Linked DNA regions of Homo sapiens: region 1 is linked to region 2. Evidence: fine-mapped expression QTL. A gene starts in region 2. The other region holds a variant in brackets. All regions are shown on one strand. Distances are from middle to middle.

Evidence for each region. PIP is the estimated chance that this variant, and not a neighbour inherited with it, causes the effect.
Region 1: its variant is fine-mapped to the expression of TCAF2 in whole blood (TOPMed, PIP above 0.99).

What each region holds. Positions count from the first base shown.
Region 1 is chr7:143,732,930-143,741,284 of GRCh38, reverse strand. No RefSeq gene overlaps it. Among named protein-coding and RNA genes, the nearest start is that of CTAGE6, 21 kb to the left of the region's middle. The variant A/G (reference allele first, on the strand shown) is at 4,505.
Region 2 is chr7:143,617,875-143,626,229 of GRCh38, reverse strand. It overlaps TCAF2 (TRPM8 channel associated factor 2), which reads right to left and starts at 5,256. Exons shown (of 8, transcript NM_001363538.2): 1 at 5,210-5,256. LOC101928466 (a long non-coding RNA gene) reads left to right here and starts at 7,521. Exons shown (of 4, transcript XR_007060573.1): 1 at 7,521-8,355. RefSeq lists a silencer at 5,192-5,351.

The DNA.
Region 1 (8,355 bases), 120 kb before region 2:
AGGACTTGAGTCTTGTGATCCAAACTGTATCTACTTTAGAGGGGCATCTCAAACCCAGTAACATCATGGTTCTTGCAGACTTGTACAAGTACCACCTTGATGGTCTTGGACAAGATCCAGGAGAATTCTCTAGATTACCAGGCAGAAATTCTTATTCTCTTTTCTTACTTTCTCCCAAATGTACAGAATTTCTCTCTCTCTGTTCTGTGCCACCTAAAGCTGGGGGCGGAGTGGCACAAGCACCCCTTTGGCCACCACCACTATGACTGTTCTGGGTTAGACCTGAAGCCAGCCCAGTGCTTACTGGGTCTCACCCAAGGTCTGCTGTAACCACTCCCTGGCTACTGCCTACATTACCTCAAGGCCTTGGGACTCTACAATCAGTAAATGCCAAAGCCAATCAGGCCTATGCCCTTCCCTTCAGGGCAGCAAGCTCCCCTAAGCCCCAGAAGTGGGTCCAGAATGCCATCTGGGAGTCAGGGACTAGAGTAAAAACCCTTAGATGTCTACCTGGTGCTCTCTTGTATTGCAGCTGAACTGGCACTCTAACCACTAGATGCAGTCCTTCCCACTCTTGCCTCCCCTTTCCAAAGGCAGAGGAGCCTCACCCCATAGCCACCACCACCCAGGCCACAAGGAGTACTGCCAGACTACCACCAAAGTTCCCTTAAAGCCCAAGATCTCTTAAGTCAGCTTGTCATAAATGCTACCTGTCCTGGGACTCCCATGTTAGGGCAGTGGGTGCTCCTCTGGCCCAGGGCAGGTCCAGAAATGCTGTCCAAGAGTCAAGTCCTAGAATTGGGGACCCCGAGAGCCTGACTGGTTCTTTATCCTTCTGTGGCCATGCTGGTACCTAAGGTGCAAAACAAAGTTCCCTTTACTTTTTCCTCTGCTTTTCTCAAGCAGAAGTTTTGCCCCAGAGCCACCGCAGCTAGTAATATCCTGAGTCTCACCTGAAGCCAGCAAGCCTCAAAGGCTCACCCAAGGCCCTTGGTGTAGTACTTGGGTATTGCTGCTGGTTATTCAGGGCCCAAGGGCTCTTCAGTTAGCAGGCGATAAATGCTGCCAGGACTGGGTCCTTTCTTTCAAGGCAGCAGGTTCCCTTCTGGCCCAGGGTGTGTGTAGAAATGTCATCTGGAAGCTAGGGCCTGCAGTGGGGACCTCGTGACTCTGACTGTTGCCCTGTTTTGTTGTAGCTGAGCTGGTATCCTAGGTGCATCACAAAGTCTTTCCCACTCTCCCTTTTCCTACCTTCAACTGGAAGAAAGAGAGGTCTTTCCGAGCCATAAGTTGTGCAGCCTGGGTTTATGGGAGGGTTGAAGCCAGCACTCCCTTAGCTGCCCCAGCTAGTGTTTCTGTACGCCACATGCAGTCCCAGTTCACTGTCTCTGGGCCTAGTTCAGCACCAGGACTCACCTAAGAGTTTCAGTCTTTATGGCCCAGACTGCCTTTCAAGTTTACTTGGAGATACAGAGTGTTATAGCCCTCGGTGGTGAAGTTTGCAGGCACTCAAGTTCTAACTGTTGGAATCAGTGATTCTCCTCTGGCTAGGCCTGGTTTAAATGCTCCCTCTGTGGGTGGGTGTCAGCTGAGTTTGGTCTGGTTTTCCTTTCTGCTCTAACAAGACAGCACTGAGTTCAATGCCTCACAATTGCTGTATTCTTCCTTCCCCAGCACCTAGAGACGCTCTCTGCACCACGCCATGATTGCTGAAGGGTGCAGGAGGGGTGGCATACTTGATTTAGGACTGTTTTTTTTCTATCTCTTCAGTGCTTGTTTCAGCCATATGAAGTTAAAACCAGGTACTATGAGGGCTCACCGGATTTTTGGTTCGTATGAAGGTATTTTTTCTGTGTAGATAGTTGTTAACCTGGTGTCCTTGTGGTGGCAGGGCAGACTATCAATGGAGCCTTCTATTCCGCTATCTTGCTTTGCCTCCTCCCCTCTGGAAAACTAATTTTTAAAAAATCAATTCTCGGCCGGGCACAGTGGCTCATGCCTGTAATCCCAACACTTTGGGAGGCCGAGGTGGGTGGATCACAAGGTCAGGAGTTGAAGACCAGCCTGGCCAATATGGTGAAACCTTGTCTATACTAAAAATACAAAAATTAGCTGGGCATGGTGGTGGGTACCTGTAGTCCCAGCTACTCGGGAGGCTGAGGCAGGAGAATCACTTGAACCCAGGAGGTGGAGGTTGCAGTGAGCCAAGATCGTGCCACTGCACTCCAGCCTGGGCGACAGAGCGAGACTCCACCTCAAAAAAAAAAAAAAATTCAAGTCTCCACTAATTGATGCATATTCTTAAAAAATTACTTAGAATCAAAATCTCAACAGGGTTTTTCATTATTGTAGTTGTTTACTCACTTGTTTTAGTGGAATGCAACAAGCTGGTTTAAAAATTTAAATGGAAGCACAAACAACCAAGAATAATTGTGTGTTCTTGACAAAAACTAAGGTAGAATAATTAGCAAGATTTATTATGAAGATATTACAATAGTATAGCATTGGCATAGAGATGAAGAAAAAAAATAGAAAAGAATAGAGAGCCTGCAAAGAGATCCACACAGATCCAGACTTTTGGCCCCGTAGATGAGGCAGAAAGAGTGAACCTTTCAATGAACAGTGCTATAATTAGGAATCCATATTTTAAAAAACTACAGTTGTATTCCTAGTTCACTATGCCCAAAACTCATTTAAACTTAAAAATTTATACAACTCTTTGAAGATAATATAGAAAAATCTCTTTGTGGAATTTGGGTAAACAATTTTTTTTACTCATGGTACAAATAGTATTAATCATAAAAAAGATTAATAACTTTGACTACTTTAAAATTAAGAAGTTGTGTTTATTAAAATACACCACAAGAAGAGTGAAAATTGGCCCAGAGTGGGAAAAGCTGTTGGCCACACATGTAACTGACCAAGTTTATATATCTAAAACATTGTGACATACAGAAAATCCGATAGAAAAATACACAAGAAAATGGAATGAGCACTTCAAAATAAAAGCAAAAATCAAATGTTTAGTTAATATATGCAAAGCTGCTTAACATCATTAGTAATGAGGAAAATGCAAATTAAAACCACAATAATATATTACTATGCACTCATCACTTTGGAAAAAAAAGTATTTCATAATATCAAGTGTTCCTAAGGATCTAGAGCAATGGAAACTCATATACTCTAAGTGATATGATTTATCTTTGACTTGTCTTTATCTACAGCTTGGTTTTATCTAAGAAGGTTGAAGCTATGCATATTCTACGATACAGCAATTCCTTTCCTAGGGTATGCCAGAGAAACTCTCGCACAGATATACATGTAAAGGATGTTTGTAGTATCAGATAGGCCCCAAATAAAAACAATCAAAAACCAATCAGCAGCAAAATAGATTAACTGATTGTATTATAGTTATATAACTGAGTATTAGGCAGAAAGAAAAATGAAGTAGAGCTACACAAATCAACACAGACGATGTCACAGTATTGCACTAAAGAAGCAAGTCATAAAAGATTACATATAATATAACTTTCTTGTATTCTTATACAGTTTAAAACAAGTTAAAACTAAACTATGTAGTTTAAGTTTGTGCACATAGGTAGTAAAACTAAAGGAGCAAAAGGAATGATCACAGAAGTCAGATTAGTGTTCCATCTGGTGGTAGGAGAGGGACAATGAACTTGGAGGAACATATGGAGGACTTCAATTATTGGCAACATTCTATTTCTTAATCTGTTGCTGATCTGATTGTTCCCTTTCTAATTATTATTTAAATTGTACATATGCTTTTAGATACATTTTTTATGAGCACAGTGTATTTCATTAAAAAAAGAATATTGTTGGGTTGCATCTTCTGACACTAAAAGTAAATTGGTTTGGGAAATTTTTATGGATAACACAAGTAGAGAGCATATTGACCAGTCAATTGCTTCATGGGAAGGGTAACATAAATATCTCTTTTAAATTAAAACCACGGCAAGAGACTGTGTTTGCCACAATGGGAACAATTTCACTGTTTCAACTGGTGATCAGGAGCTGAAAGGTTTTCTAAATGGCCACAAGGGAGAGACAAAGAACAAAGATTCTATGCAGAGGACACAGAACTTAAAATGTCGAGGGTTCATTCAAGATAGGAGTGACTTTAATTCCCTTTAGCAGTGCGTGTTATTCCATTTTAACAATATTTGTGAGCAGTAGGAGCTTTGACGGTCCCATTTAGTGTGACCAACCACTAAGGCTTTAATTTTTTCTGAAACTGTTTCGAAATACTAAGTTTTCAAATAAGTCAGGGACTTTAAGGCATTCAGGGGAGGAAATACAAGCAGGGTCATTTTAAATAAAGGTAGGGTCATCTTTAAGGCTGGTCGCTGTTGCTCATGCCGGCAATCCCAGCACTCTGGGAGGCCGAGGCTAGGTGGATCATGTGAGGCAGGAGTTCGAGACCAACATGGCCAAACCCTGTATCTACTAAAAATACAAAAATTAGCTGGGCATGGTGGCAAAC[A/G]CTTGTTGACCCAGCTATTTGGGAGGCTCAGGCAGGAGAATCACTTGAATGCAGAAGGCAGAGATTGCAGTGAGTTGAGATTTCATGACTGCACTCCAGCCTGGGCAACAGAGCGAGACTCCATCTCAAAAACAAACAAAACCACCACCACCAACAACAACAATAAAAACCCACTTCTTTAAAACTTAAAAGTGACCATTATTATTTCCCTAAAGTATTCTAGGGTGATTTCTGCCTCTTGAAATGTCTCCAGTTTGTTGGGAATTTAGATTTTACAGCTATTGGAGCTAATAACCTATGGGAACGTATGTGGTCCCTTATCCAATGCTTTTAGACATAATGAGAGGAGTTGGGGCATCCTTAAAAAGGATAAAAACCTTGAGTGTAAGACCTGCTTCCTCTAAGACTCCATCAAGCTCTTATTTTGAATCGCAGAATCTTTAAAACCCTCCAGTCTAGGTTGGACACGGTCTTGGTATTGGAAAAAAAATCAATTGTATATCCTGAGCGAAGTGTTCCTTGGATGAATGACCTTTACTGTAAAGTAACTGCTTTTTGTGTAACTAGGAATAACCTGATTGGTTTTGGCAGTTGGACTCTGCTTGCTCTGTGATTCAGTATTCAGACACATAGTCTAATGCAGGCAGAGTTACAGGCGATGGCAGATCCAGTAACTCCATAGGACAGTATGCTGGCTGAGAGTGTGGGCTCCAACTTCTAGGGTTGGAAATGTGGCTTCACAGCTTACTAGTTCTCAGCAAAATGAAGAGTGTAATTGTACTTACTCTGTAGGAATGTTGTGAGCATAAATAAATATAAAAGCACTTAAAACAGTTTCTGAAAAGAAGCGGTTTATTGATGATTCACCTAACTTACACTGATATCCTTGGGAGTAAATGTGGTCTGGAAAATAGATTTTTAGGGTCATTGCTTGAATGGGATTATGAAATTATATAAATGCACAATATATTTTTTGTTATAACTCCCGTCTGCTACAATAATTCACGGAATCTTCCCATATGTAACTTTACTAATTCAAACCTGAATGGTCCTCATTTTAACTACCTGTTCAAATGATTTGTTATTTAAGACAAAAACTATGTGGCTGGGAGTAGACTGCATGATCCTATTAAAAGAAGTATCATTTGTGAGGGTGAATCAGTCTCATGCATTGAATATGTATTTATCTAAGTGAAGCACACAGCTGCTTAGGTTCCAGTCTGCAGACCCAGGAAAGCATTGTTCCAACTGAGTGCCTTACCTAAGTGCTGAGAATTTTTTTTTCATCATTGTGAGTGTCCTTGCATGGCTTGGTTCTCCACAGTGGGGCCAATTACACTGGACTTTAATTTCCAAATCTCCACCTAAGTTTTTCTTTTTTAGCAACAGAGAGTGATATGGCCAGGCTTTGTGTCCCCACCCAAATATCACCTTGAATTGTAATACCTAGGTGTTGAGGGAGAGAGCTGGTTGGAGGTGATTGGATCATGGGGGCCAGTTCCCCCCCATGCTGTTCTCGTGATAGTGAGTGAGTTCTGAAGAGATCCGATGTTTTATTAAGTGTTTGGTAGTTTCTCTCTTGCTCTCTCATCACTCACCTGCCACCATGTAAGACATGCTTGCTTTCCTTTTCGCGATGATTGTAAGTTTCCTGAGACTGCCCCAGGCTTGCAAAATTGTGAGCCAACTAAACGTCTTTCCTTTATAAATTACTCAGTCTTGGGTATTTCTTCATAGCAATGTGAAAATGAACTAATACAGACAGTTAGTTGTTTTAGGGCTATTAAGGGCCTAGGAATAAAAAGCAGTGGCTTTGTTGTTGTTAATTCTCCCCTTCCATCTGTACTGCACAATAAAGATGATTGGGTTTTTTTCAGATTATTCTTGATGAAAAGGACAATACATTCAAGAACATTTTATAAATTTGTTGGTAGCCTAGGAAAAAGAAACAAAGGGATCTTTCTTATTGAATTTTAAAACAGAAATGGCTTATCAAACTGCTCCATTGGGCTGCCTTTGGGTTTATCCTCTTGATATGAGGTAATATGATATTTGAAGTGGTGTCTGGGAAGCTGTTCCTCAGGTAAGCTCTTGGTTACTCCTCAGGGTGAGGACTTTTTCTCTCCATCTGTTACTCAACTTCTTTGTTCTCTAGATCTCCAGCTTGAGAGATAGTTTACAATTTCTATCTTAATTTTTTCTCAACACCATTTTTCCCAACCTATGCTTAACATTGCAAAATGATGCTCTCTCCCTTTATCATCTTGAAGAGTTTATAGAGATGATGGTTATATTTTTTTATGAAAAAAGTTTCTCATGGCTTTCCCAAATGAAAAGTGAATCAGTACAAAGAGTTGTGTGTAGAAAATGTAGGAACTTCTGCAAGCTGAGTACGGGACCAAACTGTCCTCCTACCAGAACTGGGAAGTGCACCAATCTTGCACAAGAAGGCTTTTCAAAATGGAAGCCAGGCATGGTACTAAAGACCTTGCAGCAGGAACAAGTTCATGAAAATAATATCCTGAGAAACGCAATCATGCCATGCCTATAAGGAGATAGCATTGACTGAAAAGTAGCTCTCCTTCTTTGGAAACCTTGACCACATTTAACGTCTTGGCTGACCTGCTGTTCATGTGCTAGCTACGTGCTGCTGAGGCCATATTAGCGGGGGGCACTTTTGATCTTAGATGAATCAGTGTATCAGAGATGTACCTGAGCAATACTCAGAAAGGTCTGGTTTCTATTTCAAAGTTTCTGGTGAAGACAGCCTAGGGGCCTGAAGAAATAACTTATCATAGGAAACTAGGTTAGATTCAAAAGTGGAACAACAATTTGAAGTAGGCTAATAGCATCTTTTTGTTTTCTTCTACAGAAATGGAGACTAACAGATAGATGTACCGGTATGAAGGTGCCATGTATAGGCATCTCAGCTGCCTTGTTTTGGAGCTGGGAGGCCATATAAAATAATTTGAATTTTTTTTAGGGGGGTCTTAATTTGTCATTACTGTTATTGTGGGATATATCCCTGTTCCAGAACCTAATAACATGGCAGAACAGGAAAAATGTTAATTCAAAATGAAAGTATCTACACTGTAGTTAACTTTGGCTGGAAATGTTAGCAGAGGAGAGGAATTGACATCGAAATGTAGTAGAAATAGGGCCCAGGAAATGTCAGATAAATACTTTTTTCACCAAAATACAGAAACTCCTGAAAATAGCTTATACTATTCACTGACCAAGTCCCAAGGAAAAGGAGAAATAAGAATTAATGGAAAATTCACTCTCACAGTGCAGCCTGTTTTCAGAAGCTAAAAATAGGAGAATGGTTCTAATCACACTAAAGCTTCTTTCTGGAATAGTGAAACCATTTTCTTGAATAGGGATAAATAACAGAGGTCTTTTCTTCTTCTTCTTCTTTCTTTTTCTTTTCTTTTTTTTTTTTTTGAGACAGAGTCTCACTCTTTTGCCCAGGTTGGAGTGCAGTGGCACGATCTCAGCTCAGGGCAACCTCCGCCTCCCGGATTCAAGTGATTCTCCTGCCTCAGATTCCCAAGTAGCTGGAATTACAGGCATGTGCCACCACACCCAGTTAATTTTTGTATTTTCAGTAGAGACAGGGTTTTGTCATGTTGGCCAGGCTGGTGTGGAACGCCAGACCTCAGGTGATCCGCCTAAAGACAGCAAACATATACAATAGTTGGAAATCCTCATCTAGTCTTCTCCCATTATCATACACTCTTGTTAGTAATGTGTTAATACAATAGACCCCTACACCAAAACTGATATGTGACAGGCCCTGCCCTTGGGGCTGTAGATACAGCTGTGAATAGGGTAGGTCTAGTCCCTGCCCC
Region 2 (8,355 bases):
CAATCTTTGCCTCCCACAGTCTGTTCTCCACCATCAATCAGAGGGTTCCTTTTGAAATTTAAGTCACATCATAGCAATCTTCTGTAGAGAATACAAAATGTCTTCCCATCTCACTGCAAATAAGGTCTAAAGTTCTACTCCTGGCCTGTCAGTTCTTACATGACCTGAGCTATCATTCACTGAGTTCCCATCATTCTGGCTTCCCTGATTGCCAGGTGTGTCCCTGGCCAATGGATGAAATGAGTACTCAGACACAAGTATGCAGTGTAAGAACAGCTAGGTGACTGCCTGGCTGTAGTGGCCAGAGAGCAGCCCCGAGAAGCTGAAGCTGCTTGCTTTTATTTACTGCAGGCATAATGCCGAAAGCCTGGAGCCTACACAATCTGTAAATGACTAACATTTATTGTTCCTCATTCAGAGAACATCATGTGTGCGGATGTTCAAATGTCAGCTCCTGGACAACTTCAAACAAACAGGCTTGATCAAGACAAATTCTCCTACACTCCCTTGTACCTACTCCTTGCCCTCTGCCTCAGGGTCACAGAACAGCTGCCTTCAGCTATTCTCCCCTGGAGCTTTGCAGAGCCTTCCGACCTTATAGAAGGGCCACTCCCTTTCCCTTGGAACATACTAAGCAGGCTTCCCTTCCAGGTTTTCTCACCCTCACTCCTCACTCTGCCTGGAATCTTCCTCTCACAGATGCCCACATGGCTCATTCCCTCACTTCCTTGAGGTCTCCTTTCAAGTGCTACCTACCAGACCAGCCTTCCAAGCCGGCCATGAGCTTGTTTGCACTCATCTCTATTCCCCTTTCATCTTGGTCATCCTCCGTGTTGCAGAAAACTGCATTTCTTTGGTTCTCCTGTTCCCTGGATCCTGGTGGGTTCAGCCCATGGGAGAGAGAGGTAGAAGACTGAAATCAGGAAGGAAGAAGGAAGGAGTTTAAGTGCTTGCTTCTCTCTTCAGGCTGTATTTCTGGTAACCACAGTGTCTTCTCTGAGACTCCAGCTTCTAGCAGACAGACCTTTCATCTGTGGTTCCAGCTCCTGCTGGGAAGGCATAGCATGGCTCCAGCTTCTACCAGGTGGCCGCAGCACCTGGACTTCAGTAATACCACCATCTCCCTCTGCTGGTTCTGCTGTTGCTGATCTCTGGGTTACTTGCTGTCCCCTGTGTGTATTTTCAGCTCCTCTATCATGGGTATAGTCAATTCCCCATACTAAATCCCTTCTGCTAGCAACGCCAACAAATCCTGACCAATCCAACTTGGTCTGACTGATAGGACTTCCCTGAACATCTTAAATAAAATAGCCTCCATCAGCCTTCCTGTTGTCATGCTATCCACTTATATTATCATCTTTCATGGATCTTAGCAATACCTGATAGAGCACATATATATTAGTTTCCTTAATACCTATCTCTCCCCTGGAATACAAACCTCATGATGGCATGACTTGCCTGCCTCGATCTCTGCTAGACCCCCATTGTCCAGAATGCAGCATGATCAACAATCGGTGCTCACACAAACAAACAAATATTCTTTCATGCATTTAAGAGGTATTGATGAGCACTCTCTAGGTTCTATTTACTAGACATGGAGATAAAGTGGTAAGACAAGCTTTTCTATTCAGCTTTGGCCACAGGAGGGAGTGGCAGTGAGGGCCCAGCCTCTCTTGTGTCTTGGTGCATTTTAATCATCCTGCTTTTGATTTGTGGTGGTTCCAAACTGAGTGGAAAATCACCTGTATTGCAATGGAAGCTTGTTGAAGAGGGGAACCAACTCTATTGTTTATCCTGAGTCAGACTCCCTAAGAGGGGAACAAACACTCACCTGACATGGAGTGGGATCTTGGGCACCTTCTTAGAGACCTTGAACCGGTCTCTGTCCCCATAGGTGTCAGTGAAGTACACTCCGGCTACACTTGTCACCTTGTTCCCAGGGAACCTGGAGAGCACCTTGTCAGGGCCGTGCTGGCTGGCCCAGTACCAGGCCTGGCCCCCGATTAACAAGCCCCCTCCATGTTTCACAAACTGGATCAGCGTTGCAGTCAAGGTGTCATTGTAGGCATTGATACAGTAAACCCCTAGGGGCTCTCCTGGTTCTGGCTTGACCTGTGCCTCAAGCCCAGCATCCTGTAGGATGTTTACTAGAGGTGCCAGGGATGGACGCACTCCCACGGGAGCCCCAGGACAGGGACAGAGCCAGCTCACTGCATTGAGGAGAAATGAAGCCAAGCCAGCATGCGACAGGTAGCCCTCATGGGACACAACCACGAGGCGGCCTCGGCCGTAGGAGGAGGCAGCAATGAGCACCTGGCCCTTGTCATTCACCATCACGGGGAAGGCGGCTTCTCCAATAAGAAGGAGTTCACTGGGGATGGGGCCTCTGGGGACATCCCAGCATGTCACTCCATCCATGAGGGCCTCAAACGCAGCAGCAGCAATGGTCGCCATGGTTCTATCAGCTGCTGCAGGGGGAAGCAAAGACTTTCATGTATTTAAGAGATACTGATAAGCACTGCTGGTCAGAACAGATGAAGGAACAGGTGAAAAAAGCAAACAACTAAATGCATTCACCTCCAAATTTTACTGGATTCCCCATTGTGGGCCAAGCACTGTTCTAGCACTGGGAGTACAGCAAGAAACAAAACAGATAAGGTTTCCCTTTTCGTGATTTGAATATTTTAGAAGGAGAAAGATAATGAATAAATAGGTAGATAAACAGATAAATAAAATGCAACAATCACTATGATGAAAATAAAACACAATGATGTGACATGGAGGAACTGGAAGACTACTTTAGATTGGGTGATAGGAAAGGACTCTGACAAAGTGGCATTGAAGCTGAAACCTGAAATGCAGTGAGCAAAGGGCATTCCAGCAACGAGACCACTTTGGGGTGGCTGAGAGCCAGGAGCAGGGAGGAGCAGGACCCCAGGAGGAGGGAGGGACGGGCTAGATCCTGCAGGGCCAGTAAATCAAGGTGATAGTTAAGTTCGTGTGCCTGAGTGGACACAGTGCTTGATTTTTTTGAACAGAAAGGTCATAGACCTGTCAAAACATGCCTTTCTTCTGACAGCTTTGCTAAGTTGGAAAGTGCCCCCTAATTTATCAAATCTGCCCTAATGGAGAGGACCCTCCTCTATTTGGTAGCATTATGCAGTTTCCGGAGGTCTTTTAAAATTGGCTGTGCCTAACACTGAGACTATTTGTCCCTTTAAGCAGCCCCTCTTGGATAAATGACTTCAGTCTCAGTTTCCCCATCTACAAAAAGAGAATAATACAGCCATGGGAAGATTGTTTTTGAAGATTAAAGGAATATGGATAGGCCAGGCGCAGTGGCTTATGTCTGTAATCCCAGCACTTTAGGAGGCCGAGGCCGGTGGATCACCTGAGCTCAGGAGTTTGAGACCAGCCTGGCCAACATGGCGAAACCTGTCTCTACTAAATCTACAAAAAATAGCTGGGCATGGTGGCGTGCACCTGTAATCCCAGCCACTTGGGGAGGCTGAGTCATGAGAATTTCTTGAACCCTGACGGTGGGGGGCGGAGGTTGCAGTGAGCCGATATCGCACCAGTGGACTCTAGCCTGTGCGAGAGAACAAGACTCTGCCTCAAAAAATAAAATAAAATAAAATAAAATAAAATAAAGTAAAGTAAAATAAAATAAAGCAAAGAATATGTCTAAAAATGCCTTGTCTGGGGTTGGTACACATACAGTGAGCACGGAATAAACGAGAGTGTCTGTCCCTTTGCTGTCCTTTTAAGTTTCCCGGGTTGCCGAGGGCAGCGTTGCAGATTGCAGTAGTGCAGTAGTCCCCTGGCTGCCTGTGCCGCCTCCCTTTGCGCGTCTCTGACGAGCCCACTGTAAGGGACTTTCCTCTGTGCTCTGATGGCTTCTCACCTCTGCAGGTGCACAAGGCAGCCCTGAAGTAGCGGTGAGTTGACACTAGGGTGAGCTTCGCCCAGTAGAGCGGGGATTCACAGAAGAGTGCCCCGTGGCTTTCCCGAGGTGCCCATCAGAGGTCCTCGGAAGGCACCCGGAGGAAAGGAGCGCCATGTGGAAGACCCTCAGCCACATGCTCCTCCTGGCTTTCCCTTTTTTCCTTGTCTCATTCTCTCCACTTCCTCATTTGGGCTTTTTGGTCTCACTTACCCCCAAAAAATTACCTGCAGGTAAGCCCTTGCATAAGGCTTTGCTTTAGGGCAGAATCTAAACTAAAACACACACCAAGCCCTTGAGCCACAAGTGCCTCCTTCCTCTCTCCCTCCTGCTTCTATATGCAGTCAACCACCTCATTTGGTTAATCTCTCACCATCTCTCTCAAACATCAGTCCCTTTAGTTGGCAATCATTCCAGACTAAACCAATATGGTTTTAGTCCCCAGGATGTATTCTCATCCACAATCGTCCTCTACAAGAACTCTAACAAGAACCGTTACATTTCGTCCACTCTCTCTAAGGTGAAACTTGCAGAGCGCCTCAGCCTGGCTTCTCCAGGGTCTGGCATGCCAGTGATTACTGGACGTTTTTCCTGCTACTTTCTTCCACTAAATCTCTCCAAGCTCGGAAAGGTTGGCATTCTGAGCATGCCCTGCATTTCCTGTAGAATTCCATCTCTTCCCCTCTTCCCTTCCTATCCGCCACCTTTTTCTTAATACTGCTCGCGGGAAAGAAATTCACAAAAGAGAGCCAATACTCGGCAGAGCATTGAGAATGCGGGTACCTGATCTCAGCCTCAGAAGTTACCAGTGGAAAAAAGCAGCCGAGAGAGATCCGGAAGCCTGAGCTCAAGATCGTGCTAGCTACCTCCCAGAAGACAAGCGACGTCTTTCACTTCTGGGGCAGTACCAGTTTGACAGGATAAACAAAAACAGACAAAAAACCTCAGATGAGTAATATGTCCCGGAAAGCTGACCCAGCATTCCGCAACGAAATGTGCCCTCGTGCACGCACACACCATGCACATCTTTGTCAAATTCGTAATTTACAAGTTCAAATAGGAGGGAGAAACGTGTTTTGAGACAAACTGCAAATAGCACCAGACTAACAAAACGAAATGAAACCAAAGACCTAGACCTAAGAAGGGAGGGACACCCCCTGACGCCGGGTATGGTCTGGGGCCTCCAGCACTTTGCGGCGACCCCCAGTGCCCTAGGTGCTCAGCTACCGCCCCCACCCCAGGACCCGCTGGGATTGGAAAACTCACCCCTGAGCAGTGCGGATACCTAGGGACTGACGGACAGGCTCTGCAGTGGCGCGCGGGGGACGGGTCGGAGGCGAGGCGGGGCGGGGCGGTCCCGGAGGCGGGGCGGTCTCGGAGGTAGGGGCCGTCCTGGAGGCGGGGCCGTCTCGGAGGCGGGACTGTCCTGGGGACTGAGCTGTCTCGGAGGTGGAGTCCTGCGGTCCCGGAGGCGGGTTGTACCGTAGGCGGGGCTCTCTCGTAGGCTGGCCGGTCCTGGAGGAGAGGCTGTTCTGGCGGCGGGGCTGTCTTGGAGGCTAGGAGGTCTCGGAAACTGGGCTGTCCCGGAGGCGGGGCACAGGCTGGGGTGAGGCGGAGCCGACCCTGAGGCGGGCCCGGGGCGCGGCTACCGCTCCCTGAGCCACGCCCGTGGTCTCCCGTTCCATCGGTGGACCCCACCTCGGGCCGTGCTGCGGGCTCTCGGGGCGCCTACCAGGTGAGCGACCCCGCCTTCCCGGAGGGATGCTTTGGCCTGCATGGGGCCCCAAACCGGCTCCCTCAGGGTCTCTGCGGGTTCTTGGATGCGAGAGGGGACCCAGCCAGTTTGCTGTCGCACTTGATAAGAAAAGCAAACCCTAAGTCTCCAATAAACCATATTTGGGGCGAATAGTTCCCTAACAACAACGTATGCCACGGGGGAGGCCCCGCGTGGAATCAGGCTCCCTTCCCTCCGATCTTGGGGTGGGCTCAGCAGAGCCGGTAGCCGCCGCGTCGCCTCCGTCGCTCGAGCCTCTGCGTGGAGGGCTGCCCCCTAGTGGTCAGCTGCGGGCCATGCACTTCGAGCCCGGTGGATGCTTATGGCCATGGTGCGGGGTGCTCAACTAGGGCATTTTTCTCTCAAAGTATCCACAGAAATGCTGCCCAGCAAGTTATATTCTTGCTGGGAGGGAAACGTGCCTGTGGCATCACTAACACAGATTCGTCCGTGCATGGCTGGAGAAATTAAGCTAAAGCTATAGAGTGGCTGGTGCTCGAATTTCTACGCAAGAGAGGTCAGAAGGTGAAAATCAAGGTGGAAGGGTGTGGTCAGGAGGAGGATTTGGTGTAGTCTGGAGTTTAGGAACGTCTTACCTAGGAAAGTGATGACTGTGCTAGAATGAGGGGAAAAAAGTAGTCTGTCTGCATTTTGCCCACCATTGAGTCCTCATTGCCTATTTTCATTTCTGACATAGAATAGGCTTTAGTTTCTTAATAAATAACTAAATATATGCTAAATAAATAAGGATATAGTGAACGTCCAAAAATATCTGTCGAATTAGTGAGTTAATAACTGACTCTTCGGAGGACTAGTGGAAATCTGATTGGCAGAGGACCAAATACATTCAGGTTTCAGAAATAAAGAGCAAGGAGAAACTTACACAGAAAAGAAATTGTGGATAAGACTTGCCAGAATTTGGAATAATTCCGGCTAGAAATCCAACGTGCGGTGAAGTACGTTGAGTTCTTAGGCTTCATATCAGGGAACAACTGACCTTTGGGAGCTGAAGTGGGAGATGGACATCAAAGAAAGTGGGTCAGTAAAGTTCCACGTTAAAAGCTGATTCAGGCCCGGGTGCGGGGGCTCACTCCTGTAATCCCAGCACTTTGGGAGGCCGAGGTGGGTGGATCACCTGAGGTCAGGAGTTCAAGACCAGCCTGGCCAACATGGAGAAACCCCGTCTCTCCTAAAAATACAAAAATTAGCCGGGCGTGGTGGCACAGGCCTGTAATCCCAGCTACTCGGGAGGCTGAGGCAGGAGAATTGCTTGAACCCGGGAGGCGGATGTTGCAGTGAGCAGAGATCATGCCACTGCCCTCCAGCCTGGGCGACAGAGCGAGACTCCGTCTCAACAACAACAACAAAAAGCTGGCTCGGTATCTTTTGTGTGTTTGTACTCTTAGGTTTTAACCAGTCTCCACCTACATCAACCTCACTCCTCATGGTAAAGTACTACTATTGTTCTAAATTAACTCCTGAGAGTATTTTGGTGTTGCTCTAATAGAAGAAAGGGGCTTTAAACAAAGGTGATTTTTCCAGGGTCAGAGAGCAGAAAGTACCTGCCATTTGGGAGCAGGAGCTGCCTGAGGAATGGAACCTAACAACATAGGAACGGCATAACGGTTCCTAAAAAAAAAAAAAAAAAAAAAAAAGAAGAAAAAAAAGATTAAAGATGGTAACCAGCATTTACGTTCTGACTAAAGGGTGTCCGAGAGAGAATACAGTCATGGGTTCTTAGTTTCTGTTTTTGGTTAGGCGAGTAAAACCCCTTCCTCATCCCTCTTTTCCCCTTTCACTAGAGACAGAAACTAAAAACCGTGAGTTCAGGCAGCTAGAAACCTAAAATAAAAGAAAACGGAACAACAACAACAACAACGAAAATAAGGTGGGTTGGATAAGCTTCGAAATGGTTACTGCTTATGCAAAGGTGCAGGCCCCAGATCTTTCCTTTTACTTGGGAGAAAACAGACGCCATTCAGTGAAAGTCAACATATCCTTACTGGACACTTATTCTGTGAGGCACTCTGGGAGATAGAAATGCTATTATGGTCAGTAAATCTAGAGAGGAAAAAAGACAAGAAAACAACTATACCAAAATTGGCTACGAATCAGGTGCAAGGGCACATAAAAGAAGCAGCAATTATTTCTGATCAAAGGATTAGAGAAGAATGTGCACAGAAGGTGACACAGAAACTCAGCTTAGAAAAATGTATATTTGCGGGGAGATAAAGGGGAAGGTATTACAATGTGAGGCTGTATAAGATTCCAAAGCACAGAGATATGAATGTGAAAGGCTTAATTTGAGAAAGACAAAATGTTCATAGTGACTGAAACTTGTTAGCAGAACTTGCATAGTGCTAGCTCTAAAGAGAAGTTTGGGCTCGGTTTAGAGGGACTTTGGCTGCCATACTAGGGAGTTTGGATTCCATTCTACAGTGTGGAGGAAGATTTTTTAAAAGCACCATTTAGTAAACACTGTGGTTGCCTCCTCAACATCTATTCCCTACACTACCCCTATTGTCCTTTCTAACCAAATCCATTTTTTTTTTAAATCAGATAATCCACCTCTCCTTTATGAGATTCAGGGGACAATGAATTCATCTCCATTTCCAAGGATAGATCTGTATTAGCTTAA